Homo sapiens: one gene and its partners. The protein of the gene in region 3 purifies or fractionates together with the protein of the main gene of each other region. This does not show direct contact. Each region holds a gene or a part of one and is shown on either strand. Other genes may lie near its edges. The genes, in order: ROCK1, SNX9, ANAPC16, CCDC43, ARHGAP18, STK25 and PLCB3.

Region 1 (3,500 bases), on a different chromosome or scaffold from region 3:
ACCCGTTTAAAAAGATTATTAGGTATGTATTAAACTAAAAACATACACCTAATATATAAAAGAACACATCACAAAGTTGCTCTAAGCCTCTAAATGCTTTTAAAAACACATACGAAGCAGGTTTGGATCATGTTTATTACCCACAAATAAAATCAAGATTGCTTAATATAATAAATATATTAGAAAGAGCCAAGTGGCAAGTTTTGAGATGAACAACTGTAATAGAGAGACATAAAATCTTCCTTACTCACCTACAAGCATTTCGTATAAAAATACCCCAACCGACCACCAGTCACATTCTCTTCCATAATAACCATCACCACCTTGGGATTTTAATACTTCAGGGGAAATATAATCAGGTGTTCCAACCGCTGTATCACATCGTACCATGCCTTCCTAAAAAGCGCGGCAGGTCAAATTTTGAATTAGGATATAAAGTCTCAATTATTTAAAATGACTTTCTTATTAATATTACCTATGGGACTCCAAATCTTTGAGCTATAAAATATCATATATTAAAACTGAATGGAAACCTGACAAAAATTAACACAGCTTAATCATATATATACATACTATATACACACCATATACATATATACCATATAATGTATGTATGTGTATACATGTGAATGCATATACACACACATTATATGTGTATTCACATATATACACACACCAGTGATTATTTTGTAATAATGCTCACTAGAAAAACATACTGCCACATTTATTATTCCCCAAGTTGTGCCAATATCATGAAACCATTTAACTGCTGAGAACAAGTACACAGGCCAGTGCAAATACACTGGGGAGTTCATAGGATAGGGCATTTTACAACATATTGGTATAAACACTGACTTCATTATTTTCTACTAAAATAGCTATTTAACTATGTTTGAAACTACAAAAGAAACATACAAAAGCTGACTGTACAAATACAAACTGGGGAAGCATATGTATGGGAAAAGGGCATAATAGTGTAAAGCACACTGAATGTCTATTTGATGTGAATTTTAACTGCCCTCCCCCAACAAACCTGAGAGACTTGTTAGCTGTTACCTATATTCGCTGGTATTAATGAAACAGCATTATAACTAAATGTTCATACAGAAGTTCTCATGCAGTGTTTCCTTCACTGTGTATATGAAGTGAAGGAATAACATATACACAGCTCCTTCAGCTCCTTCAGCTGTGTATATGTTATTTATTATATAAATAACATATTTATTTATGTTATTTATTATATGTATATACATATACATAATGTATATGTATATACATATACATAATATGTATATACATATACAGCTGTGTATATGTTATTTATTATATAAACAGTGAGGATAGGTATCTTTTAAGACTCACTCCTAAAATAAGCAGTAAAATCTTTTATATGTTAACTGAAGTAAAACACTAAAAAATACACACATTACTGGAATCCAATTTTTATGAAAGTCTAATTTTAACACTGGCATAAGTATTTAGTGACATTTAAGCTAATTCCATTCCTAGTTACCAGTAGTGTATATTAGAGTTGTTATGAAGGATTTAGTAAATCTGGCAATCCATATTTACCCTAAATAGAGAGGAAAAAATAAATCACTAACAAGTTACTAATACAACATTGAAACCATGGTATCTAGTTCAACAAATAAGGTCATATTAATTCTGGACAAGTCCAGCTATGGTTAGTAAATTCTTACACCATTTTCTAAAGAATTCTTAAACCATTTTCTAAAGAAGCATCTACCTTGAATTAGCAAAAACTAAATTAAAATCTAGTTAATTAACCTTATTCATCTTCATACAAGTACCAAAATCTGCTAACTTCAAATGTCCAGATTTATCCAGCAGCATGTTATCAGGCTTCACATCTCTGCAGGAGGGAAAAAATAGTACAGTATTTTCTGAAACAGATTAGACACTGTAAAAATTATATGAGGCAGTTATTTTAGGTCAAGCATCCTCAATCTAGGTAAGGCCATCTTTGATCTGTATGTGTTCTCTATCCACATCTATAAATTAAATTTCATCAAAGAAACTTCTTTATATGTTAATGCCTCAGAAGAAAACATATATATTCCTTTTTTAAAAGTTTCATTCTTTCAGAGGGAAAATCAAATCATTTGAGAGAGACAGACCATCAAAAATACAACACTCAGACATAAAAGGTGATTGAAACATATTAGATAGGTAAGTACATAAAAAAACCCCACGGCAGGGTCTAAGTCACTTTCATTTTTGATCCCTGACATGTAGGCACAGCAACTGCACACAGGATTCAAGCAGTGTTTGTACAACAAATGAAACTATTCGTCTAATGAATAAATACGACCTATTCACTAATTAAAAGCAAATTAAGTTACATATTTAAAAAATTAACATCAAAGTGTTTAACTCCTGGCACATACCTTAGAAAACTAGTTTACAAGTTTTACTTTTCAGAACACCATTTAAAGGCTATATGATCAGATTAAGGGATATTAAAGAATACATTTATATCAACATTAAATTGAAATGCTAAAATTATAAACTTCAAAGTTTGGAGTTCTTTTTTTCCCCCCTTCCTGACATAGAATCTCACTCTGTCACCCAGTCTGAAGTGCAGTGACTAGATCTCAGCTCACTGAAACCTCTGCTCCCAGGCTCAAGCGATCCTCCCACCTTAGCCTCCCAAGGAGCTGGGACCACAGGTGCATGCCACCACACCTGTGTTTTTTTTTTTTTTTTTTGTAGAGATGGGTTTCACCATGTTGTCCAGGCTGGTGTCAAACTCCTGAGCTCAAGAGATCTGCCTGCCTCGGCCTCCCAAAGCTCTGGGATTACAGGCGTGAGGCAGCGCCTGGCCAGAGTCTTGAGTTCTGAAAGGTCACTTATGTCATACGGAAGAAGAATGGGTGAACTGAGAGTAAGAAATGTTAAAGTTATTTTTAGCTATTTCCCTCAACAAATGAGAAAATTTAAAGCACTTTTATCTTTACCTGTGAATAAAACCCATGGAATGGATTGCATCCAATGCAAGAACTACTTCTGCAGTATAGAATCGTGCCCATTTTTCAGGCACATCATAGTTGCTCATTAAGTTTACAAGATCTCCACCAGGCATGTATTCCATCACCATGTAGAGATAACGATCATCTTGGAATGCATAAAAAAGCTATACAAATAGAAAAAACAAACAAAACACATTCATTAATGTTAAACAAAATTGTTTCACTTAAAAAGTGGCAAAAATGTTAATAAAAGATTTAAGTAAAATAATCAAATTACAGAAGTTGCAAGTCTAGTTTTAAAAAAAGACAAACATAAATGCCACAAAGACCCTTGTATATGCAAAATGACTATAACATAATTATTCAGAAGAGTTACATGGAGATATCCTTTCTTCATAATTTTCTACACTATTTGAATTTCTTTTACTGAGAATTTTTTTAAACTGTAATATTTTCAGTAAATATACAAATCTCCTAGGCAAAGAAATACTGTATTTCTAATTTAACTTG
Region 2 (3,500 bases), on a different chromosome or scaffold from region 3:
AATGTGACACAAGCCCTTCGGTTTCATTCCACATTTTGATTGGTGGTAGATTTTCTGTCTAGGTGATATTTAGTTGTAGATTCCCAAATGAAATTCTGGAAAAGAGAACTGTAGCTATCTTCTGATCCTATTGACTTAACCCTGTAACAATTAGATTGGGAACCTGAAGCCTTGAGTGTTCTCATCCTGGACTCAATCGAGGATGAGGAAACATCTGGTCTTATTCTGTAGTCTTTGGAAACTTGATAAAATTGCAGGAATAGTATTAGATTCTCTAATTACTTGTGCCTGCATGTTTGAAAAACTCCAAATCCTGGAAGCCTCCAAGCTGAAGAGCTGTAACCAAGAGCCCTTTTTATGCTTTTTCCCTCAAAGCAAATTTGGGATAATTAACTTCTGAGTAGTTATATTAAAGATTTTTTTTTCCTGTTTTCTCTGGACTTAATAAAAATTGAACATGTACCATTATTCTTTTCATGACATTTAAAACTCCTCAAAATCAAGAGCGCACAGCTCTGCCTCAGTTTTGTTTTTTTGTTTGTTTGTTTGTTTTTAAGACAGAGTCTCACTCTGTCACCCAGGCTGGAGTGCAGTGGTGTGATCTTGGCTCACTGCAACCTCTGCCTCCCGGGTTCAAGCAATTCTCCTGCCTCAGCCTCCCGAGTAGCTGGGATTACAGGCATGCACCACCACGCCTAGCTAATTTTTTTTGTATTTTATAGTAGAGACGGGGTTTCACCATATTGGCCAGGCTGGTCTTGAACTCCTGACCTTGTGATCCGCCCACATTGGCCTCCCAAAGTGCTGGGATTACAGGTATGAGCCACTGCGCCCGGCCTGCCTCACATTCTTAAAGGGGACTTTGTCCCAGGTTTGCAGTGGTGGTACAGAGCTAAGGGTTCCAGCCTTTCATTGACCGGCAAGTTTTAAGTAGAACTGCACCCATGCACCCAGTAGGCAGGTCTGCCTGTGTGGGCGTCTATACATGGAAGAAGCTGAGGAAAGCCACCGCGTCTTCAGGAGGCCCAGAGAAAGCAGAGACTAACTCTTTGCTCTAAAAGTGCAGTAACCTTGCCCACTCATGAAACAGAGCCCCGTGAAATTGGGCCTTAGCCAAGCACAGTTGCTGCTCTCGGCCCACTCACTGAGGGAGGTCCCGAAAGTCATCTCCTCTGCAGCTTTCAGCTAGTTTCTTGGATCTGGGCTCTCCCTGAGGGGGTTATAGTAATTGTTCTCAGAGATTTTAGTCTCTTTTTAAACTACTCTTATCCTTGGAGTAGGTCACCTTCCTGACCTAACAGCCTCTGAACTTTAATATCCCAATCCGCTTTTCCCATCTTCCTCTTAAAAAAAAAAATTAGGACTGGGTATACCTTTTTTTCCTTTTTATGTCTGTCTGGCCTTGCCTCTCTGAGGTCTCAGCCGAAACAAATCTCTCTTCCTTCAGCGCAATCTGTGTGATTTTTCTCATTTTCTTTTTACTTTCTTATGGTACTTTTTCAAGTCTGCAAGAATAAAACCTGTTCCATAAATTATTTCATTCTCCTTGAATCTCTGAATGAATCTCTGAGTGAATCTGCTTCCTGAATAGTGGTCCTTTTACAGTCCATGTGTTTGTTTTTTCATTCTCTTCTTGGATTATAACTCAATTATTTTTCATTTTCAAGCCAAGAAGATAGATAACATTCTCAGTATAATAAGGACTTCTATTGCTCTGAAATGTGTTTTGATAAGAGCTACTGTCCTGCAGTCTGAACCTCTAGAATCTGTCATTGTGATCAAAGTTTATGAAATGAATGAGGCAGAACCAACTTGAGACTATTGGTGACTCAGGTAGTGATTCCAGAAGCCTGTACATGAGCTCCAGCATCCAGGTTCCTCTGCAGCTGCCCCCATGGCCTTGGATGCTGTTTTAAATAAGATGAAAAAACCAGGTTTGGGACAGCAGACCTATTGTCACCTAGCAGTGCCTAGAAGAAATGATCCTCAGGCTCAAAACTTACACGAGGTCTCTACACCCCCACATAGAATTTAGCTGGTTTCCCTTCCTCACCTCCCACCACAACTAAAACCCCAGTGAGCTAGTGTAAGCCTCGCCTGAATTTGTGAACTTTTGCCCTAGTCACAGATAGAAGAGAAGGCCAGTGAGAAAAGAATGGAGGCCTACCCTCTTCAGGCAAGCCTTGCCCAGGTGGACGTGATACCCGGGGGTTGGAAGTGAGCCAGCCCACTGTGCTTAGGCACATAGCAGTCCACGGAAGAAAACAGCTAGCCTGGTTCTTGCTTTTAAGATGTAGTACCTCCCCCTCCCCCCACCTTGCCACTAGTAGTAAAACAATGACTATCAGGCTCTGGCCAATCTGATTAATCGTTTCTATGAGCCAGAACAATGCTACTCAAAGTATGGTCCACAGACCACTTGCCCATCTGAAAACTGCTTGTTCCTGATCCACCGTGAGATAGGTACAGTACATGAGAATATTTTGAAAACTTGAGGACAATTTGGTATTGTTGAAAAATCAAAATGTGTAATGTTATATTTCACCAAACTATTAGTCTGTGATAGATTCGAAATTTTTAAAAACTAGTCCTTCATCACGTGTAGCTTGAGACAGCTAGACTAGAAAGAAACATTGTCTTGTAACCAGCACTGTCCTTGGGAGAGGGAAGCTGGTGTCTCCTCTCCATGGGCTGAGCTACTCACGTGGGAGCAGAAGGGTTTCCCACAGGTGTGTTCTTTAAACATAATATCTAACAGGAACAGAAACCATTGAACCATTTATGTACCTTTCAAAGAGGAACAAGAATGACCCTCCAAAGGACTTCTCATTCTGAAAAGAATTACTTGCTGATTCACATCAATTGTATTTATTATTTTTCCATGTAACAAAATTACTTCTTTCTGGAACATTGGCATAGGTTGGAGATTATGGCCCAATGTGGGTTTATCCTACCTCTACTTTTGACTGTGTGGTAGCAGATCCCAGGAAAGGCTCCAAAATGTATGGTCTAAAGAGCTACATCGAATATCAGCTAACACCTACTGTAAGTATCCACGTTATCAAAAGCAGAATCATGTTTGGATCACTGATTGCAGCTTGCTTTTTTCTTCATTTTCTAGAGTTGGCATTGGTAACCTTTTCTCTTTCCCTTATTTTGTAGAACACTAATCGATCTGTAAACCACAGGTATAAGCACTTTGACTGGTTATATGAGCGTCTCCTGGTTAAGTTTGGGTCAGCCATTCCAATCCCTTCTCTTCCAGACAAACAAGTCACAGGTGAGTGTGTGTAATGCTAAACCCAGGATGACAAATAGAAAGACTCCAGTCAGATTATCTTCCTGTAAGTCAGTGATGGCATTTTCCATCCTGTAGAGCAGCAGGATGCAGGAGTTGGAAACAGTAATTAAATACAGCTATGAAGAGAGAACCATTGCATGTTGTACATCTATCTGGAAGTTGCCTAAACGTCTCACAAGAACGTTTAATGTGCAAATCA
Region 3 (3,349 bases):
GGTAGCGGAAGCCTTATTTTCTCCAGGTAGTTACTTCCTTTTACCATTTAATCAAAAGTTTTAGGATTTTTCCTAATACAATGTGCTGGGTTGGGTTTGGTGGGATGTGGCATAGTGAATCTAAAAGAAGCTGCTTTGGATTCTGGCTGAGTTGAACTTAAATCCAGATTTGGCCATTGACTTAGCTGTGCAGCCTTGGCAAGTGACACTTGCTCTGAGCTTCAAGTTCCTTTTCTATATTAGGGGGTATTACGTATCTTGCTGTGTTATTCAGAGGATTATAATTCATGCCTGTGAGTGACTGGCACAAGAGAAGACAGATGACAGATCAGCAACTGGGACCATCTTTGAGCCCAAAGCATAGTAACAGGCGTTGTGGACGATGCAACATAATGACTGACAAAAAGGTATAGAGAGGGAGGTACTCTCTTTAAAAAATTGTGAGAGTCTTATTCTTGGTAAGACTAAAATAGCAGCTAAGTGATCAATGAGAAAGGTGCTTCAAAAAGCATTTTTGTTTAATGCTAAGATCACTTCAGTTTCCAAGGTCATATAAAGAAACATCCAATTTAGAGAAAAAATTCTGTAATAAGTTCAAATACCAAAGCGTAAAGATGATGTAACACAGTGCCTATGCTGCATGGTTACACAAATGAAACGAGAAAGGTAGTGATTGCTTCTAAATTCTCACTGAAAATCCAATTTAAAGGTTTATTGCAGTCTAGGTATTTTTAATTTTTCCCTTGGTGATTATCAAGATGGTTGATGCTAATAAGTACTATTAAAAAACTAAAATGCTGTCGAATATGGAACTTCTTTTAGTTAAGAATTATTAATATAGAAAATGTGAGTTGGTGGACTGGTACTTCTTGTGCTCTGATTTTTATTTATTTATTTTCTTCTTTTTTTTGAGACAGTTTCGCTCTTGTTGCTCAGGCTGGAGCACACAGGCACGATCTCCACTCACTGCAACCTCCGCCTCCCGGGTTCAAACGATTCTGCTGCCTCAGCCTCCTGAGTAGCTGGGATTACAGGCGCCCGCCACCACGCCTGGCTAATTTTTTTTGTAGTTTTAGTAGAGACAAGGTTTCACCATGTTGGCCAGGCTGGTCTCGAACTCCCGATCTCAGGCAATCCGCCTGCCTCAGCCTCCCAAAGTGCCGGGATTACAGGCGTGAGCCACCACGCCCGGCTTTATTTTTTTTTTTTTGAGACAGAGTCTCGCTCTGTCACCCAGACTAGAGTGCAATGGTGTGATCTCAGCTCACTGCAACCTCCGCCTCCTGGGTTTAAGCGATTCTCATGCCTCAGCCTCCTGAGTAGCTGGGATTACAAGTGTGTGCCACCACACTGAGCTAATTTTTGTATTTTCAATAGAGACTGAGTTTCACCATGTCGGCCAGACTGGTCTTGAACTCCTGACCTCTAGTGATCCACTCACCTCAGCCTCCCCAGGTGCTGGGATTAAAGGTGGGAGCCACTGTGCCCAGTCTCCAATTTGCTTTAGAGGCAATAATGAGATGAATTATCAGGCAACTGGGATCTATTCCAAGTCCGAGATTTTCTTCTGCCTGGGCTATGTGACCATGAGCAGGTGTTTAACTTCACAGGGCTCAGGCTCTTAACCGACTGAATGAGGTCACCACCTCCCGTCAGGTAGAATGTGTTAAACATTTTGAACTCTTGAGATTAAGGCTAAATGCTACTGGGATTATATTTACTTATAATTAAGCAACTCTAAGCAGATCAGATGCAAGTTATTAATAAGGAACCAGACAAATGTTGTCTAAGGCAAAATTTGCATACAACGTAATAAATGATTATACCAGTTGTTTACTGTGGAAAGTGGGGTCCCATGAAGGAAAACAGCACATCTCTTAGCCTTCCAGGTTTTCCCCTATCATGGTATAAAAACTTACTTGAGGCCAGGCGCGGTGGCTCATGCCTGTAATCCCAGCACTTTGGAGGCCAAGGTTGGGGGGATCTCTTGAGGCCAGGAGTTCAAGACCAACCTGGGCAACATAGCAAGACCATGTCTCTTTAAAAAAAAATTGGCTGGGCAAGGTGGCTCACGCCTGTAATCCCAGCAATTTGGGAGGCTGAGGCAGGTGGATCACCTGAGGTCAGAAGTTCGAGACTAGCCTGGTCAACATGGTGAAACCCCGTCTCTACTAAATATACAAAAAATTAGCTGGGTGTGGTGGCGGGTGCCTGTAATCCCAGCTACTTGGGAGGCTGAGGCAGGAGAATTGCTTGAACCTGGGAGGTGGATGTTGCAGTGAGCAGAGATCGCGCCATTGCGATACAGCCTGGGCAACAAGAGCAAAACTTCGTCTCAAAAAAAAAAAAAAACTACTTAAATATCATTAAGATAAATTTATGTACTCCTATAAAGACAAATATCCCTTAAGTAAAGCCAGTCTACCATTTGTTTAGGAGAGATGGTTTTTAGATTCCCTTCTTCTAAAAAGTAATTTGACCTCTTCACTTCATCCCAAATCCCTGAGATTTTGAAAGGATAATGCCACCAATTTGGAGCTCTTTCAAAGGATTTATTTGCTACAGAATTGCTTGAGTCCACCAATGAGAAGAACTCAGGATTTCTGTGTTTAAAAGGATTTTGCTTACTGCTTTATTTTTACAAGTGCTGCCATATCCAAAAAGCACTTCTTTTTGCCAGCATTTGGCATGTCTATAAGAGGTTAGAAAAAGTCAGAATCTATAGAATTGATGTCTAAAAATAGGAAAAAAAAAAGAATATTTAAAAATTCCTCATTTGGATAGGTCCTGAGTTGAAAACACATTCATCTGCAAAATAACTTTTTTAGGTCAGAATGCTATATTTTTAACCACAGATGCTGACCTTGACCTTGACTGGTAAATATTTCCAGGCACCATATGGATGACAGGACAGACGCCATTCAGTTGGCCAAATCTGATATATGCCCTACTTGGCTTGTGAAAATTTTTGAGTATCTCTTAACCCCAAACCTCCTGGTTCTCTGAAACTGATTGTCTTAATCTGATTCCCAATACTTTTAAAAACAAATAAACAAAACATTCCCTGAAAGATCACACATATAAGTATTTGTTGCCTGTGAATAGATACAGAGAAACCAAGTACAAATGTGCATTAACAATTCAGTGACGTAGCTGTGGATCTCTGGATGGCTATGTAAGCTGTGAGAAAGTCCCCCACTGGCTTTGCACTTGCTGCGCACCAGAGGTGACCATCCAGGCAGTATCAACCTGAAGAGGGGGTGAATCCCAGCAGCTGCTCGATGGGCTTAAACCGCCACTCGTCAGCCTCCAGCTCTTCTACCAAACCAGCTAGTTTTTCCATCCGAGC
Region 4 (4,136 bases), on a different chromosome or scaffold from region 3:
TCTAAATTCCTCATATTAAATCCTAGCCCAAGTCAGGCACAGAGGCTCACATCTGTAATCTCAGCACTTTGGGAGGCCAAGGCAGGAGGATGTCTTGAGCCCAGGAGCATAAGACCACCCTGAGCAACATGGCAAAACCCTGTCTCTACAAAAAAAAATTTTTTTTTTTTAATTAGCCAGGCATGGCTGGGTGTGGTGGCTCACGCCTATAGCCCCAGCACTTTGAGAGACTGAGATGGGTGGATCACTTGAGGTCAGGAGTTTGAGACCAGCCTGGTCAACATGGTGAAACCCCATCTCTACTAAAAATATAAAAATTAGCCAGGCATGGTGGCATATGCCTGTAATCCCAGCTACTCGGGAGGCTGAGAATCACCTGAACCCAGGAGGCAGAGGTTACAGTGAGCCGAGATTTTGCTACTGCACTCCAGCCTGGGTGACAGAGTGAGACTTTGTCTCAAAAAATAAAACATAAAACATAAAAAAAAAAGTTAGCCAGGCATGATATGTGATGGCAGGTGCCTGTAGTCCTAGCTACTTGGGAGGCTGATGAGAGGGGATTGCTTGAGTCCAGTCGTTCAAGGCTACAGTGAGTTATGATCACATTACTATAACAGAGCGAGACTCTCTTAAAAAAAAAAAAAGGCAAACTAATGTCTACCTTTATCAACAGAAACAGCTCCAAATAATGATGGACTGATCAAGAAGCTGGTACCAAGAAGTCTCAAAGTTATTTCAACAGCTTCATGGAGTGTTTAGAAACTTCCCAGCTGTAAATAAAAACTACCTTAAATTGCTTGCCTCCTACTCTTTCTCCCTATAATCTGTAATGTTGTGGTCCAAAAAAAGAATTGATTCCACTGTCTTGTATTTCCAGTGAACTTCCAAGCTTCCTCACAGGCTGTGTTAAAGTTTTCCCATTTATAAGCCAATCTTGCCAGAAGAGGCTCTGGAACTCAAATGGGTTACTGCCAGAAGAATCTGGGACAGCTGCACTAGTGTTATATTTCAACCATGTACCCAATCTATGAACTGCTTCCACCAAATGTGAGTGATTTTTTCCTAGCACTTGTTTCCGCTTTCACAAAACACTTTTGGATTTGAAAATGTTTCTGCCTTCTACCCTTTTAAAAAAATGAGATATGAATATGTACATTTATATCTATATATATTTATACTAATTTTTTTTTCTTTGAGACAGGGTCACTCTGTCACCCAAGCTGGAGTGCAGTGGCACAATCACGGCTCACTGCAGCCACAGCCTCCTAGGCTCAAGTGATCCTCCCACTTCAGACTTCTGAGTAGCTGGGACTACAGGTATGCGCCACCATACCTGGCTAATTTTTTAAATTTTTTTGTAGAGACAGGGTCTTGCTATGTTGCCCAGTGTGGTGTGGAACTCTTGGCCTCAAGCAATCCTCCCACCTCAGCCTCCCAAAGTGGTGAGATTACAAACATGAGCCACTGTGCCCCACCTCATGGTACATTTTGATTCTATTACTAGCCTTTCAAAATTGGTTTTGAGAATAACAAAGAACCCATTTTTCTAACCTGTCCATTGTAATAAATGCCAGAGGATAAAGCCTTTGATGGACAGACAGGTGGCTCTCACAGTAGCAATCAGGTATCCAGGATCTCCTCTAATCCATGAATGCAGAGACAACTCTAGCTTCTACAGCATTTAGTGATGATTCAAGTAAATTTTATTTTTAAGCTTGTATTTAAAAGGAAACAATTTGTTAGACAGCCACAGGTAGCACCTACAACCAATTTAATCTGTAATAACCAGTCTAATAAGTGTGTATGTTGGAGGTGTGGGAAGTGAAGATGAAGGCAGCAGAAATGATCAGGTTGAAAAAGTGGACATCTGGGTGACTTACTATGTAAACATAGCTTAAAGTACACATTTCTGAATACCTTGCTTCTAACAGGCTAAGGACTAAGTTTCTCTCTCTTCGTTAAAGCTCTGATCTCTCTCATACCCTCCTTCCCACCACCAATGATTACTGTAAATACTGTAATGGATCAAGCACGACGTTTGCTTCAGTTCTGCGTGGGCATGAAAAGACTTCTACCACCAGCTTACCTTTTATGGACTCCTACATCCATATAAGAATCAAAAGGGCACTTCCTGCAGGCTTCTGTCATGGGACAGCCCTGGGAACTGCCTTGTAATAGGCACAGACCTCCCAAGAGCATTTTAATACCCCCAGTGAACACTGTAAACGGATGGAAATGGAATTGGTCGTCAGATATTTATGATAACATTCCCATTCTGACATTTCAATGCCTTCGGAAGAACCCTCCTCGGCTCACTCACAAGCATCGGAGAGGGCCTTGTCCCCAAGAATACGAGAAAGCCCTTCCTCTCTGTGTACCTGCAGCTTTCAGGCTTCCCACACCTGGTTGGGGAGCAACCTCCTTCCCCCGCCGCCCAGATATCAGAGGAGTATACCTCTCCCAGGTGAGACCACTGAGCCTCTGGGATACCCGGTAGGGGAGGGAGGGTGCAAAGTACTGACAGGTCCTCAGATGCTGGCCAGAGGCTGAAGGAATGTGTCCAGGCTACTCACCAGGAAAGCAGAGAGGATCCCCTGCAGAGCGTCCAGCTTCTCTTCTTCCTCCTCCTCCTGCAGGATACCCAAGATGTAGGCTCCATAAACGGCTCGGTCCACTCCCAGTGCCTCCAACCGTCCGTCCAGCCAGGAGCCAAAGCCGCCGCCTCCGCCATCGCCTTCGCCAGGGGCTATCGCGGCCACTTCGCTGGGCGCCGCCATCTTGGGGTCAGGGTCCTGCAAGCCCCTAGGGCGCCTACCGCAGTGCCTGACGGGCCGCGCCGCAGGTCCACCGCGCATGCCTGAAGAGGAAGCCCAGGCCCGTAAGTGCAAAGAGCGCAGCCGTGTCGGCCGGCTTGAGAGTTTTGTGCTTTCTAGATGAAGCGCGTCTTCGCATACGTGCGGTCGCGTGATCTCACAAGATGCTTGGCATGTGAGTATTCTTAACAGACTCATTCTACAGTTCGGGAAGTTGAGAGAGGTGCAGTAATTTGGCCAAAGTCACGCGGCTAATAACTACCCAGGACTGGAGCTCAGCGTGGATGCCATCGCTTCCTCCACCCGACCGAGCTGCCTTCCCCGCGCTTTCGGGGGATGCTGGCCGCCCACTCCCACACAGCTGTCTGGCAAGAACCTCCTGACAGCCTGGAATACCCTCGTCGTCGCTACCGACGGCTACCACCTTCACCTGTACAAGCCCTTCCCTGTCAAAGTAAAGGTTGCAGAAAACCTTCCCTGATTCCATGGTAGGCACTCAGTAAATAAACAGGCAACCTCAAGTTATTTCTTCCACTCATTGATTCAACGCGTGCACGGGACTATTCTTTGAGAAGCGTACCCCACCCTCTGCTAGGCACTGTGCCAAAAGCTTTTCATGCATTATCTCTTGTAATCCTCCCTACAGCCCTGTGGGGAGATGCTTTTATTGTCCACATTTTAAAGATAAGGAGACAGGCCGGGCGCCATGTCTCACGCCTGTAATCCCAACAGTTTGGGAAGCCGAGGCGGGTGGATCACCTGAGGTCAGGAGTTCGAGACCAGCCTGGCCGACATGGTGAAACCCCGTCTCTAGTAAAAATACAAAAATAAGGCCGGGCACGGTGGCTCACTCCCGTAATCCCAGCACTTTGGAAGGCCAAAGTGGGCAGCTCACCTGAGGTCTGGAGTTCGAGACTAGCCTGACCAAAATGGAGAACCCCCGTCTCTACTAAAAATACAAAATTAGCCGGGCGTGGTGGGACATGCCTGTAATCCCAGCTACGTGGGAGGCTGAGGCAGGAGAATCGCTTGAACCCAGGAGGCGGAGGTTGCGGTGAGCAGAGATCGTGCCATTGCACTCCAGCCTGGGCAACAAGAGCGAAATTCCGTCTCAAAACAAACAACAACAACAACAAAAGCCAGGTGTGGTGGCGCGGGCCTGTAATCCCAGCTACTCAGAATCGCTGGAACCCGGAAGGCGGAGGTTGCAGTGAGCCAAGATCGCGCCGCTGCACTCCAGCCTGAGCGACAGTGAGACTCCATCTCAAAAACAAACAAACAAACGAACAAACAAAATCACTAAAGATAAGGAGACAGATATGG
Region 5 (3,500 bases), on a different chromosome or scaffold from region 3:
CCCAGTTGGACACCGGGTGCAACCTCTAATAATTCAAGAAGAAACTATGGATAGGGTTTTTAAACCACAGTGAAGAAAATGCCTTTACAAAGGACTCTTATGTCATGAAATTGAAGAAGAGATTGATCTGGAAAACAATTATCCCCATGGACAGGTTTAAATCCATTTAGTCACTAAATTCTATGAAATTAGAATGAGGAAATACGCTTTAGAAGCTAAGGTTAGAAAAAATAAAATTTAAATATTACACAATTGCATTATAAAAACTCATTACCATCCCTTTTTTTCAACAACAAAAAAATATATATATATGATCAGGTAATAATACACTAATTCAGAATGAAGAAACTTTTTAAATGGTATACTACATAGGTTTTTAAAATCCTGTGAAGATTCATGTAAAAACACTGAACTAATCAAGACAGCCAGCCATGTTCTTACTTTAATGTTTATCTCAAAAAGATATTTCTCAAAACTGAGCTTCAGGCCAGGCGTGAGGGCTCACACCTATAATCCTAGCACTCTGGGAGGGCGAGGCAGGCGGATCACTTGAGGTCAGGAGTTCAAGACCAGCCTGGCCAACATGGTGAAACCCCATCTTCACTAAATATACAAAAATTAGCCAGGCATGGTAGCAGGCACCTGTAATCCCAGCTACTGGGGAGCCTGAGGCATGAGAATCGCTTGAACCTGGGAGGTGGAGGCTGCAGTGTGCCAAGATGACCCCACTGCACTCCAACCTGGGTGACACAGCGAGACTCAGTATCTGAAAACAAAAAACAAACAAAAAAAAACTGAGCTTCATGTCTCGCTCAACTTACCCCAGCCCCCTTATGCCCCTCTGCAAGTCCTCCCTATCTAAATTAATGATCACTTTAACATTACAAGTTTCTTAGGGCAAAAACCTTGAATCTTCAGGTATTCTCATTTGTCCATCTCCTACAGGCCCTAATGTCAAAAGATTCCACTGCTCACCCCGTTCATTACTAAAACAACTGAAACCCTGGCCCAAACCACCACTGCCTTAACCTATTAAGCAGTACCACTGCTTCTACACTCTATAATCAATATAACAGCCAGAGGGACCTTTTAAATGTGCTCTCTTCCTCCACTGCTCAAAACCCACTCCCTCAATGGCTTCCCATCTTACTTTCAGCAAAAACTCAAGTCCTCAAATGTTCTATAAGGTTATCAACTCCCACCTTGCTTTCTTCTTCCTCCCTCCTCCTTATCCTGACCCCTGCAGTCATGCAGGGCTCTTTGCTCTCTGGGTGCTTGGTTTCAGACTTACTCTATCTAGGCTTATGGCTTCTACACTCTCTACCCACTATCTGCCTTAAAAACTCTTCTTCTAATTCTTGCCCCCAGATATTTTGGGGCTCACCTGTCACCTGCTCAGGTCTTTATTTTCCCCTCCAGGCTACCCTCCCTGCACCCAGATGTTTGTCTGGTTTATTTCCCCCCATTACAACCCCAGTATTTAAACAATTGCCTGACACACAGTAAGAGAGAGCTCTTATATGTGGAATGACTGAATGATTATGCTTGCAGAACCAAGGAATGGGTGAGACATGAACAAGTCAAGAACTGAGATAAGCTTATAAAGATGATAGTCCTCTTCCATTTGGCATGCTGGGCAGTAGTAGTTCTTAAAGCAGAGGAAGGAAGCATGGAGACAGGAGTGAGTCCAGCTGCCAAAAGAGGATCCACCCACATTCTATCTTGCCATAGAGTCAATATTTGCAGACCTCAATGCCCATCAATACCCCCCAAGAAAGGCCTGGTATAGGCAATTGTTACCAGTTCAAATCATAAATGGTGCTATGGATCAGGATGATATTTCCAAGGTCTTTCAAACTTCAAAGGCCTAAACTTTTACATTATGGTTCATTCTCAAATATGTCATTTTTTAAGCATATGGATAATGCCCATGTTTCTTAACACATGACAAAATAATATTCAGAAAAACGCTTCTGAAACAAGGGAGAATATTCTATATCCTGCAAAACTCAATCCTTTCTTTCCTTTTCTTTACCTAGTATTAAGGAAAGTAGCAGCTAGCTACAAACCAGACACTCTTCTATGGGCTTGACAGAGGTCATCCCACTCAGTTGTCTTAATCAGGTGAGTAATATTATGAAGTTCAATTTATGGGTAGAGAGATAACTCCTCCAAGGTCACACTGCTAATGAATGAGAGAGCTGGGATATGACCCCAGACAGGTTGGCCCCAGAACCCAGGGTTTCTGGGTTTATGTCACCCCTGTGTAGTGCCTCTTGTTTCTGCCTACCCAATACCAATGGCAAGTTGGGTCAACAAGACCTTACATGATGAATGCCATACATTTATTCAGAGAAGGCATAAAAATATCTCACTCATCAGTCCATTCAGTTAGCTAAGGAATTAAAAGGCCCAATAAAAAAGGTTACTTGACATTCATATTAAAATATTAGCAAAAAATATGCAAAGCAAACAACCATTTCTCTTAAAATGGGAAGGTAAGAGAGAACAGTAAGAATAGACAAAACACAATATTCTTCGAAAAAATTCTTTTCAAAACTAAATATTAAGAAGCCTGCTTGAAAAACAAGTAAACAAAGTCTTATAAATATAGCTACTCATAAAAAGTGGTTTCCTTTGGAAACATTCAACTGTGTACAAGTCGGCCATGACAACTAATGTTAACATATTTCTTCAAATCCTCATGTTTTGAGGAGGAAACATACAAAAGAAAAACAGGATTCTATAAAGGGAGAGGCTCTAACCAGGAGTGGGAGGAATTCCTTAATCTGACATTCAATGACTGTTTTCTGATAAAGAGGGATAATGGAATGGAGAAAATTTAGCTAACAAATTACTTCCAAAAATATTAATTCCCTACTATCTCAGCTTTTCAAAAGACCAAATGGTAATAAAAAAGGACATGGAGCCGGGTGCAGTGGCTCATGCCTGTAATCTCGGCACTTTGGGAGGATGAGGTGGGCAGATCATCTGAGGTCAGGAGTTCGAGACCAGCCTGGTCAACATGGTGAAACCCCGTCTCTACTAAAAATACAAAAATTAGCCAGGGGTGGTGGCACTCGCCTGTAATCCCAGCTGCTTGGGAGGCTGAAGCAGGAGAATCACTTGAGCCTGGAGACGGAGGTTGCAGTGAGCCCAGATCGTGCCACGGCATTCCAGCCTGGGTGACAGAGTAAGACTCTGTCTCAAAAAAAAAAAAAAAAAAAAAAGACTTGGTATGGCTAGGCTAAAAATCAAACACTTTCAGGCTGGGCGCAGTGGCTCATGCCTGTAATCCCAGCACTTTGGGGGGCCAAGGTGGGCAGATCACCTGAAGTCGGGAGTTCGAGACCAGCCTGACCAACATGGAGAAACCCCGACTCCACTAAAAAAAAAAAATACAAAATTAGCCAGGCGTGGTGGTGCATGCCTGTGGTCCCAGCTACTATAGAGGCTGAGGCAGGAGAATAGCTTGAACCTGGGAGGCAGAGGTTGTGGTG
Region 6 (3,207 bases), on a different chromosome or scaffold from region 3:
CCCACTCCAGAAGCAGGGGCGTGGGCCCTGGGGGTGAGGGTGACCAGATATAGTGTTGGGCAGGGACCCCCTCAAGGCTGCAGGACAGGGCCTGCTGAGGCATCAGCTGGACCCCGTGGCCTGGCAGAGCCCCGTCTGGTACCTCGGGTTTCCCTTGGCCGTGAGGTGTGCCCTGAGGCCCTCATGCCTCCTGGCCCTCTCCCCACTGGCCCTGGCAACTCCTCATCCTCTTCAGTGATGGCGAGGCGGAGGACGGGGAGCAGGGCCCCATCTGGACGTTCCCCCCTACCATCCGGCCGAGTCCACACAGCAAGCTTCACAAGGGGACGGCCCTGCACAGTTCACAGAAGGTCTGTTCCTGGCCTGGCCTTTGCCCTCTGTGCACCCCTGGGGCCGTGGGATGGGCTGGATGCGGGACCCAGCTTTGTCCACCCAGTGTCTGGAGCTTGGACAAGGAGCTTGGGAAAGGCAGGGGTGGTCTGAAGCCCACTGTGGCACTAGGCCTGGTGTGGAGACCCCGAGCCCCAGCATGTGCCGGGAAGATGAGGGCCTGTTTGGAGCCAAATTTGTGAGGAGAGGGTGGGAGTCACAGGCCCTCAGAGTCAGGAGAGGGTGGGAGTCACAAGCCCTCAGAGTCAGGAGAGGGTGGGAGTCACAGGCCCTCAGAGTCAGGAGAGGGTGGGAGTCACAGGCCCTCAGAGTCAGGAGAGGGTGGGAGTCGCCCTCAGAGTCAGGCCATCCGGGTGGCTTGATGGTTTTGGGGCCGGCCCTGGACATGTGCCCCGACAGGCTGCTCCCAGCCTCTGTCTCTTCAAGGCTAGAGCCTGGGCAGGGATGGGAGTGCCCTGCCTGTCACCTGCACTGCCCTGCTCACCCTGGGCCTCCACTCCTTTGCAGCCTGCGGAGCCCGTCAAGAGGCAGCCGAGGTCCCAGTGCCTGTCCACGCTGGTCCGGCCCGTCTTCGGAGAGGTGAGGATGGGGCTGGGACTGGGCCTGGAGTCCCGTCAAGGACAAGGCTGTGACACTGTTGCACGGAGATGTCTCCCTCACAGCACTGTGGGGTGGTTTCAGCTTCTAGCTTTCCTGCAGCTGATTGTGGGCTGGGTTTTCTGAGTGGAAGGAGCAGAATCTGCTGCAATGACTCCTTTTGTACTCCCAGACCTGCCAAGGTTCTCTGGGTTCCTAGGGTGACTTTTTTTTCTTCAGGTGCAAACACAGATGATCCTTCTATAGAGAAAGCAGAGAAGGTTTAGTCGGGGTCCATCCCCGGGCAGGTGCCGCCCTGGTTAGTCACGTGACCCTGCATCAACGTCACCTGCTGATGGGCAGTCAGCACCGTCCTCAGAAATGTGATACAGCCAGGATCTGTGTGCCCAGGGCGTGGCCAGCGGGCTTGGGCCCAGGTGTGCCCTCCAGGAGCCCCACCTGGAGCCTGGGGAGGGAGGATGGAGGATGTGGGTGAGAGGTGGTGAAGGCAGGGCCTGCCTGAGGACGGCAAAGGGAGGAGCACGGTCGAGGGACGTTGGCCCCAGCCCATGTGGAGGCCCCAGCGGGAAGCAGCCACTCGGGTCCAGGTCCTGGGCAGCCTGCTGATCCAGCCACAGCCCCCCGAGGGTGGGTGACACCCGGTGACAGGAGGCTCAGATGCTGGTGTCCTGATGGAGGTCAGATCTGGGCCTGGCGGTGCCGTGTGCTTTGGGGGTTTCTGGGCTTCGTGTTTTTGGGTCTGATTAGACCCATTGAGTGGCTTCCATGACCCTCGGCTGGGAGGAAGCCATCTGGTCCCCTCCTGAGAACCGAGGTCCGAGATTCCCCGGAGTGTAGGGGGAAGGTAGGTGCTGTGGGGAAGGACCACTAGGGTCCCCGTTGGCAGGGCAGGGGCAGAGGCTTCCTTGGGCCACCTCACTTCCCGGCTTGCTGAAGGGCTCCCGGGTGTGGCTCCTAGGCGAGAGCCCTGAAGGCCTCCGGCATCACTGTGGCCGAGCAAAGGAGCAGGCTCCCTGAAGGCCTGTCCTGGGGTCCAGGGTCAGGCGTGGTGGTCTTTTCACAGCTCAAAGAGAAGCACAAGCAGAGCGGCGGGAGCGTGGGTGCGCTGGAGGAGCTGGAGAACGCCTTCAGCCTGGCCGAGGAGTCCTGCCCCGGCATCTCAGACAAGCTGATGGTGCACCTGGTGGAGCGAGTGCAGAGGTGAGGGCGGCCGTGCCATAGGGTCGGGGAGAGCACCCCCACCAAGAAGCTGGACGTGGGGTGAGGTCCAGTGCTCACTCGTGGGTGTGGCTGCATTTGGCACTACATGGGCTCGCTTCACTCTGGGAAGGCGCGGCGTGGCATCCTCTTCCTTGTTTGGACCCAGCTCACAGGGCCATGGAGACTTTGGGGCTGGAGAGAGTGGGCAGGGCCTTTCCAGTCTAAGGGTCTGAGGCAGTGTCTCAGGGTCCCGGCCTCAGTGGCCACATGGCTGTCCTCAGCTGGCCTCTGCCCCTCCACCTGGTGGCTCCCGGGAGCTACTCTGACACGCTGGTGGCAAAACGTCAGAGCTGCCCCTGTGCTGACTCGAGTCCTTAGCAAAGAGACAGGGCAGGACAGATGCTGGGCCCTCCACCGCCCAACGGACTTAGGGTCCAACCGCCATGCCGCCGGCAGATGCGCCAAGTCCTGGTCCACACACAGGGACCCCTTCCCGGCGCCCCTGGGCAGCAGCTCTGGGGGTGGGGTCTGGGCCAGTCATTGCTGCTCCTGAGACCCTGTGCATTGGGGACACCTTCAGACCCACGTGGTGCGGTGGCTTGTCAGGGCTGCCACCGCAGACTGCACACCCAAGAGGCCGTCAGGAGCCTGGGCACAGAGGTGCACGCACGCAGCAGTGGGCTCTTCTCTCTGCAGGTTTTCACACAACAGAAACCACCTGACATCCACCCGCTGAAGCGCACTGCTGTTCAGATAGGGGACGGAAGGTCGTTTGTTTTTGTTCTGAGCTCCATAAGAACTGTGCTGACTTGGAAGGTGCCCTGTGCTATGTCGTGCCTGCAGGGACACGTCGGATCCCGTGGGCCTCACATGCCAGGTCACCAGGTCACCGTCTCCTTCCACCCCTGCAGTGTGCTGTTGTGCACGTCAGGGACGCTGTTCTCTATGCCCACTGCCCTCCTCCCTCTCCTGGCCCAGCAGTATTGCTCACGGGGGCTCCAGCCGCCGGCGTGGCCCTCA
Region 7 (3,500 bases), on a different chromosome or scaffold from region 3:
GTTGCCCACCACCATGCCTGGCTAATTTTTGTATTTTTAGTAGAGATGGGGTTTCACCATGTTGGCCAGGCTGGTCTCGAACTCCTGACCTCAGGTGATCCACACGCCTCAGCCTTTCAAAGTTCTGGGATTACAGGTGTGAACCACTGTGCCTGGCCTCAATCCAATCTCTATAGAGCACCTGGCATCATCCTTCTAAAAACATATCATATCAGGTCACATCACCTCTTCTGCTTCACCCTCCAAAAAGCCTCTTCCTCACACCCAGGATGAATCCAAGTGCCTCTAGGCCCCTGGGCTTAGCCCTGCCTTGCTCTCCCTCTCTTAGCAGGCACCTATCTCCAGCACTCTGCACCCTGCCGCACCAGCTTCCTTTCTGCTTTTTTATTATTTATTTAATTTTTTTTTTTAGAAAAGGGTCTCTCACTCTGTCACCCAGGCTGGAGTGCAGTGGTGCAATCACAGCTTACTCCTGCCTCAACCTTCCCAGAACCAAGCGATACTCCCACCTCACCCTCCCAAGCAGCTAGGACCACAGGCATGCGCCACTATGCCCAGCTAATTTTTTAAAAATTATTTGTAGAGATGGGGTCATGCTATGTTGCCCAGACTGGTCTCAAAACGTGGGCTCAAGTAATCTGCCTGCTTCAGCCTCCCAAAGTTCTGGGATTACAGGCATGAGTCACCGCACCCAACCCCCTTCCAGCCTCTTAAAAGCACCCTGCAGGCTGGGCGAGGTGGCTCATGCCTATAATCCCAGCACTTTGGGAGGGCGAGGCAGGCGGATCACCTGAGGTTGAGAGTTTGAGACCAGCCTGACCAACATGGAGAAACCCCATCTCTACTAAAAATACAAAATTAGCCGGGCGTGGTGGCGAATGCCTGTAATCCCAGCTACTTGGGAGGCTGAGGCAGGAGAATCGCTTGAACCTGGGAGGCAGAGGTTGCGCTGAGCCTAGATCGTGCCATTGCACTCCAGCCTGGGCAACAAGAGCGAAACTCTGTCTCAAAAAAAAAAAAAAAAAAAAAAAAGGACCCTGAAGTCTCTCCTGCTGCAGGCCCTAACACAAGCTGTTCCAGCCCTTCCCTGGGAAAGCCACCATGAGGCCCCACTGCTCAGGGCTGGCTGCCTGTTCCCTGCCTGCATCCCCAGCACTGGCCAATGAATGAGCAAATGGGCCAAAAGGACTGTGCCCCAGGAGGAGTGGGGCTGTGCAAGGGTCACAGGGCAGAGGTCACGGGTGCCACCCTTGCTCCCCACTCACCAGTGAGATAGGTGTTATGCGAGGAGTTGATGAAGTAGGCACTCAGTGGCTGGGTCATGTCCGTGCTCAGATCCAGGGCTTCCAGGGGCAGGATGCCATTCTCCTCGCCTCCCAGGTAGCGGCTAAAGCCCTCCATGGACATCTGGTCTGGGGTGGGAGAGGATCAGCAGGGTCAGCTGGGGTCCCACCTGCCCCCACCCACCTGCACCCCAGCCAGCTCACCTCGCTCCAGAAACTGCTGGTTGGGCTCATACTTTTCGATGAGCAGCCGGGCCTGGGAGGGCCGCAGGGGCGGGTACAGCACTTCGTTGAGTCTCGGGTCGCGTTGCTTCTGGTTGATGAAGTCCATGAGCTGCTCCAGCGTCAGGTATGGCTTGCCCTTGGCGCCTCTGGAGGGGACAGGAAGCTGGGTCAGGATGGAGCCTGGCAGGGCTCCCACCCCGTCGCCAAGCCCTTGCCCTGGGCAAGGGAGTCAGAAGGCCTGCCCCTGGATCTGGCACCCAGTGAGTGGGACTCTGGGTGAGTCATGGCCAACCTCTGGGCCTCAGTTTCCCCCTTTACTCTCCTGACTACTCAGGATTGTCAAGGCAGCAGACTAGTGGGCACCAGCAATGGCCAGGGCTTAGGAGCTGCCAAGTGGTCAGCCCACCACCCCTCGCTTCCAGACCTCACAACACACCTGAGGCTTGGACCCCATTGCAGAGTGGGCTGATTAAACCAACCCTGGCACAGGGTTAGCCCAGAGCTGCCTGTAACTGAGGGGCAGAAACGGCGGGTCTGAGTACAGGAACATCACCGACAGGTTCTCCCTGGGCACCCCTCCGCCCCCTGGCGCTCCAGGACCCGGCCCACCAGTTTCCCCTCTCCCCATTGAGCTAGAGGCACGCTAAGCAGAAGCTAAACACAGAGCACAGGGGTTGTGAGGCAGGCCGGGCCCACTCACATCTCCAGCAGGATCTTGTCAATGTCCGGCCGCAGACACAGCTTGTTCAGGAACCGCTCAAAGATTTCCAAGGAAAACTCATCAGGCCGGATGGACTCACTCTGGAGGTCGAGGAGTGTGGGGTGAGAAGCCAGGGGCGGGCAGCCCCGTAAGGGTGGGTGCCCACCGTGACACCCCACCCCGCCCCTGTCCCCACCCCACACACCCGGTTGAATTTGAGGCCACAGGATTCCAGCGCAGTCTCCACCCGCTTCTTGTCTGCTGAGAACATCTTCAGGATGCTGATGCGGGCAGGAGGGGTTCAGGGTCAGTGGAGGACAAAGGTCACCAAGGTCAGGGCAGGAGGAAGGTGCTGGGGGAAGGGGTGCTCACTTCTTGACGGGGATCCGACCATCCTGGTTCACCTGCAGCTTCAGCTTCGTGTATCTGGGAAGGCAGATGAAGAGGTCACACCCTGAAAACGGCCACGTGAACCCCCCGGCTCCCCCTCGGGTGGCCTGGGGCTCACGCTTTGCGCAGGAAGGTGTTCCGGGAGGCGTTCTGAGCCAGGATGTTCATAGCCAGCTTGAATAGCTCCTCAGACCAGACCTGGGGGGCCAGTATACACGGGGAGGCGGTGAGTGGGGGACACAGGGGCTGCCCAGCCACAACCCAGGTCCACAACTGCCTCTGGTACACAGTAGGTCACAGAGCAGCCTAGAACACAGCAGGTGTTCGGTAAGTGACGGCCGACTCACAGAATAAGACAGTGACTCCCCCTTCGTCCCCTTGGTGCCAGCCCACCTTGGCTGTGTCATCCTGCACGGCCATGAAGTTCAAGAACACTGTGTTCACTGGGTCTGGCCCAGACACCACCGTCATCAGCTTCTCCTCCAGCCGGGCATCGGGACCCCCAAAGCCCAGAACTTCCCGGATCTTGGGGTCCTGAGTAGGTGACAGCGAAGGGTGAAGAGGGGGCTCCCGCACAGCCTCGCTGTGGTCTTCACTCCCAGGCTCATCACTCACCTTGGGCAGGCGGGCGTACCGGCCTGTCCGTGTGTCCCTGATGGAACTGATGTCCAGTGTGTCCACCTCCTGGGGGGAACCAGATGCCAGGCTGAGTATGAGAGGCTGCAGGGCAATAGCCAGGAGCTTCCAAGCTCTCTACCCAGGCCAGGGAATGGCCAGCCCCTGGCTATAGCCCCAGCCTCAGCTCCTGCCCTGAGCACTTCCTGTCTGGGCAGCAGTGGGAGAGGTCAGCCTGCAGCCGGGCCCCACCCCCACGGGCAGGGCAGGGGTCTGGGACAGGGGTC

Evidence for each region.
Region 1: the proteins of ANAPC16 (region 3) and ROCK1 purify together in Homo sapiens (affinity purification with mass spectrometry; one large-scale study listed by BioGRID and IntAct). This does not show direct contact.
Region 2: the proteins of ANAPC16 (region 3) and SNX9 purify together in Homo sapiens (affinity purification with mass spectrometry; one large-scale study listed by BioGRID and IntAct). This does not show direct contact.
Region 4: the proteins of ANAPC16 (region 3) and CCDC43 purify together in Homo sapiens (affinity purification with mass spectrometry; one large-scale study listed by BioGRID and IntAct). This does not show direct contact.
Region 5: the proteins of ANAPC16 (region 3) and ARHGAP18 purify together in Homo sapiens (affinity purification with mass spectrometry; one large-scale study listed by BioGRID and IntAct). This does not show direct contact.
Region 6: the proteins of ANAPC16 (region 3) and STK25 purify together in Homo sapiens (affinity purification with mass spectrometry; one large-scale study listed by BioGRID and IntAct). This does not show direct contact.
Region 7: the proteins of ANAPC16 (region 3) and PLCB3 purify together in Homo sapiens (affinity purification with mass spectrometry; one large-scale study listed by BioGRID and IntAct). This does not show direct contact.

The regions. Positions count from the first base shown.
Region 1 is NC_000018.10:21,042,314-21,045,813, forward strand, and holds part of ROCK1 (rho-associated protein kinase 1), read right to left. Parts: intron 3,155-3,500; coding exon 2,979-3,154; intron 1,874-2,978; coding exon 1,789-1,873; intron 397-1,788; coding exon 252-396; intron 1-251. UniProt on the Homo sapiens protein: Protein kinase which is a key regulator of the actin cytoskeleton and cell polarity.
Region 2 is NC_000006.12:157,906,746-157,910,245, forward strand, and holds part of SNX9 (sorting nexin-9), read left to right. Parts: intron 1-2,919; coding exon 2,920-3,045; intron 3,046-3,162; coding exon 3,163-3,280; intron 3,281-3,500. UniProt on the Homo sapiens protein: Involved in endocytosis and intracellular vesicle trafficking, both during interphase and at the end of mitosis. Required for efficient progress through mitosis and cytokinesis. Required for normal formation of the cleavage furrow at the end of mitosis.
Region 3 is NC_000010.11:72,233,012-72,236,360, reverse strand, and holds the end of ANAPC16 (anaphase-promoting complex subunit 16), read right to left. Parts: coding exon 3,245-3,349; 3' UTR 501-3,244; downstream 1-500. UniProt on the Homo sapiens protein: Component of the anaphase promoting complex/cyclosome (APC/C), a cell cycle-regulated E3 ubiquitin ligase that controls progression through mitosis and the G1 phase of the cell cycle.
Region 4 is NC_000017.11:44,686,977-44,691,112, forward strand, and holds the start of CCDC43 (coiled-coil domain-containing protein 43), read right to left. Parts: upstream 2,801-4,136; 5' UTR 2,778-2,800; coding exon 2,574-2,777; intron 2,038-2,573; exon of another isoform or gene 1,965-2,037; intron 1,318-1,964; exon of another isoform or gene 1,202-1,317; intron 1,048-1,201; exon of another isoform or gene 878-1,047; intron 773-877; exon of another isoform or gene 674-772; intron 1-673.
Region 5 is NC_000006.12:129,703,678-129,707,177, forward strand, and holds part of ARHGAP18 (rho GTPase-activating protein 18), read right to left. Parts: intron 1-3,500. UniProt on the Homo sapiens protein: Rho GTPase activating protein that suppresses F-actin polymerization by inhibiting Rho. Rho GTPase activating proteins act by converting Rho-type GTPases to an inactive GDP-bound state.
Region 6 is NC_000002.12:241,495,378-241,498,584, reverse strand, and holds part of STK25 (serine/threonine-protein kinase 25), read left to right. Parts: intron 1-235; coding exon 236-350; intron 351-897; coding exon 898-969; intron 970-1,206; coding exon of another isoform or gene 1,207-1,233; exon of another isoform or gene 1,234-2,024; intron 2,025-2,050; coding exon 2,051-2,187; intron 2,188-2,883; coding exon 2,884-2,923; 3' UTR 2,924-3,207. UniProt on the Homo sapiens protein: Oxidant stress-activated serine/threonine kinase that may play a role in the response to environmental stress.
Region 7 is NC_000011.10:64,254,530-64,258,029, reverse strand, and holds part of PLCB3 (1-phosphatidylinositol 4,5-bisphosphate phosphodiesterase beta-3), read right to left. Parts: intron 3,283-3,500; coding exon 3,214-3,282; intron 3,133-3,213; coding exon 2,992-3,132; intron 2,797-2,991; coding exon 2,717-2,796; intron 2,635-2,716; coding exon 2,581-2,634; intron 2,490-2,580; coding exon 2,414-2,489; intron 2,310-2,413; coding exon 2,209-2,309; intron 1,655-2,208; coding exon 1,488-1,654; intron 1,413-1,487; coding exon 1,266-1,412; intron 1-1,265. UniProt on the Homo sapiens protein: Catalyzes the production of the second messenger molecules diacylglycerol (DAG) and inositol 1,4,5-trisphosphate (IP3).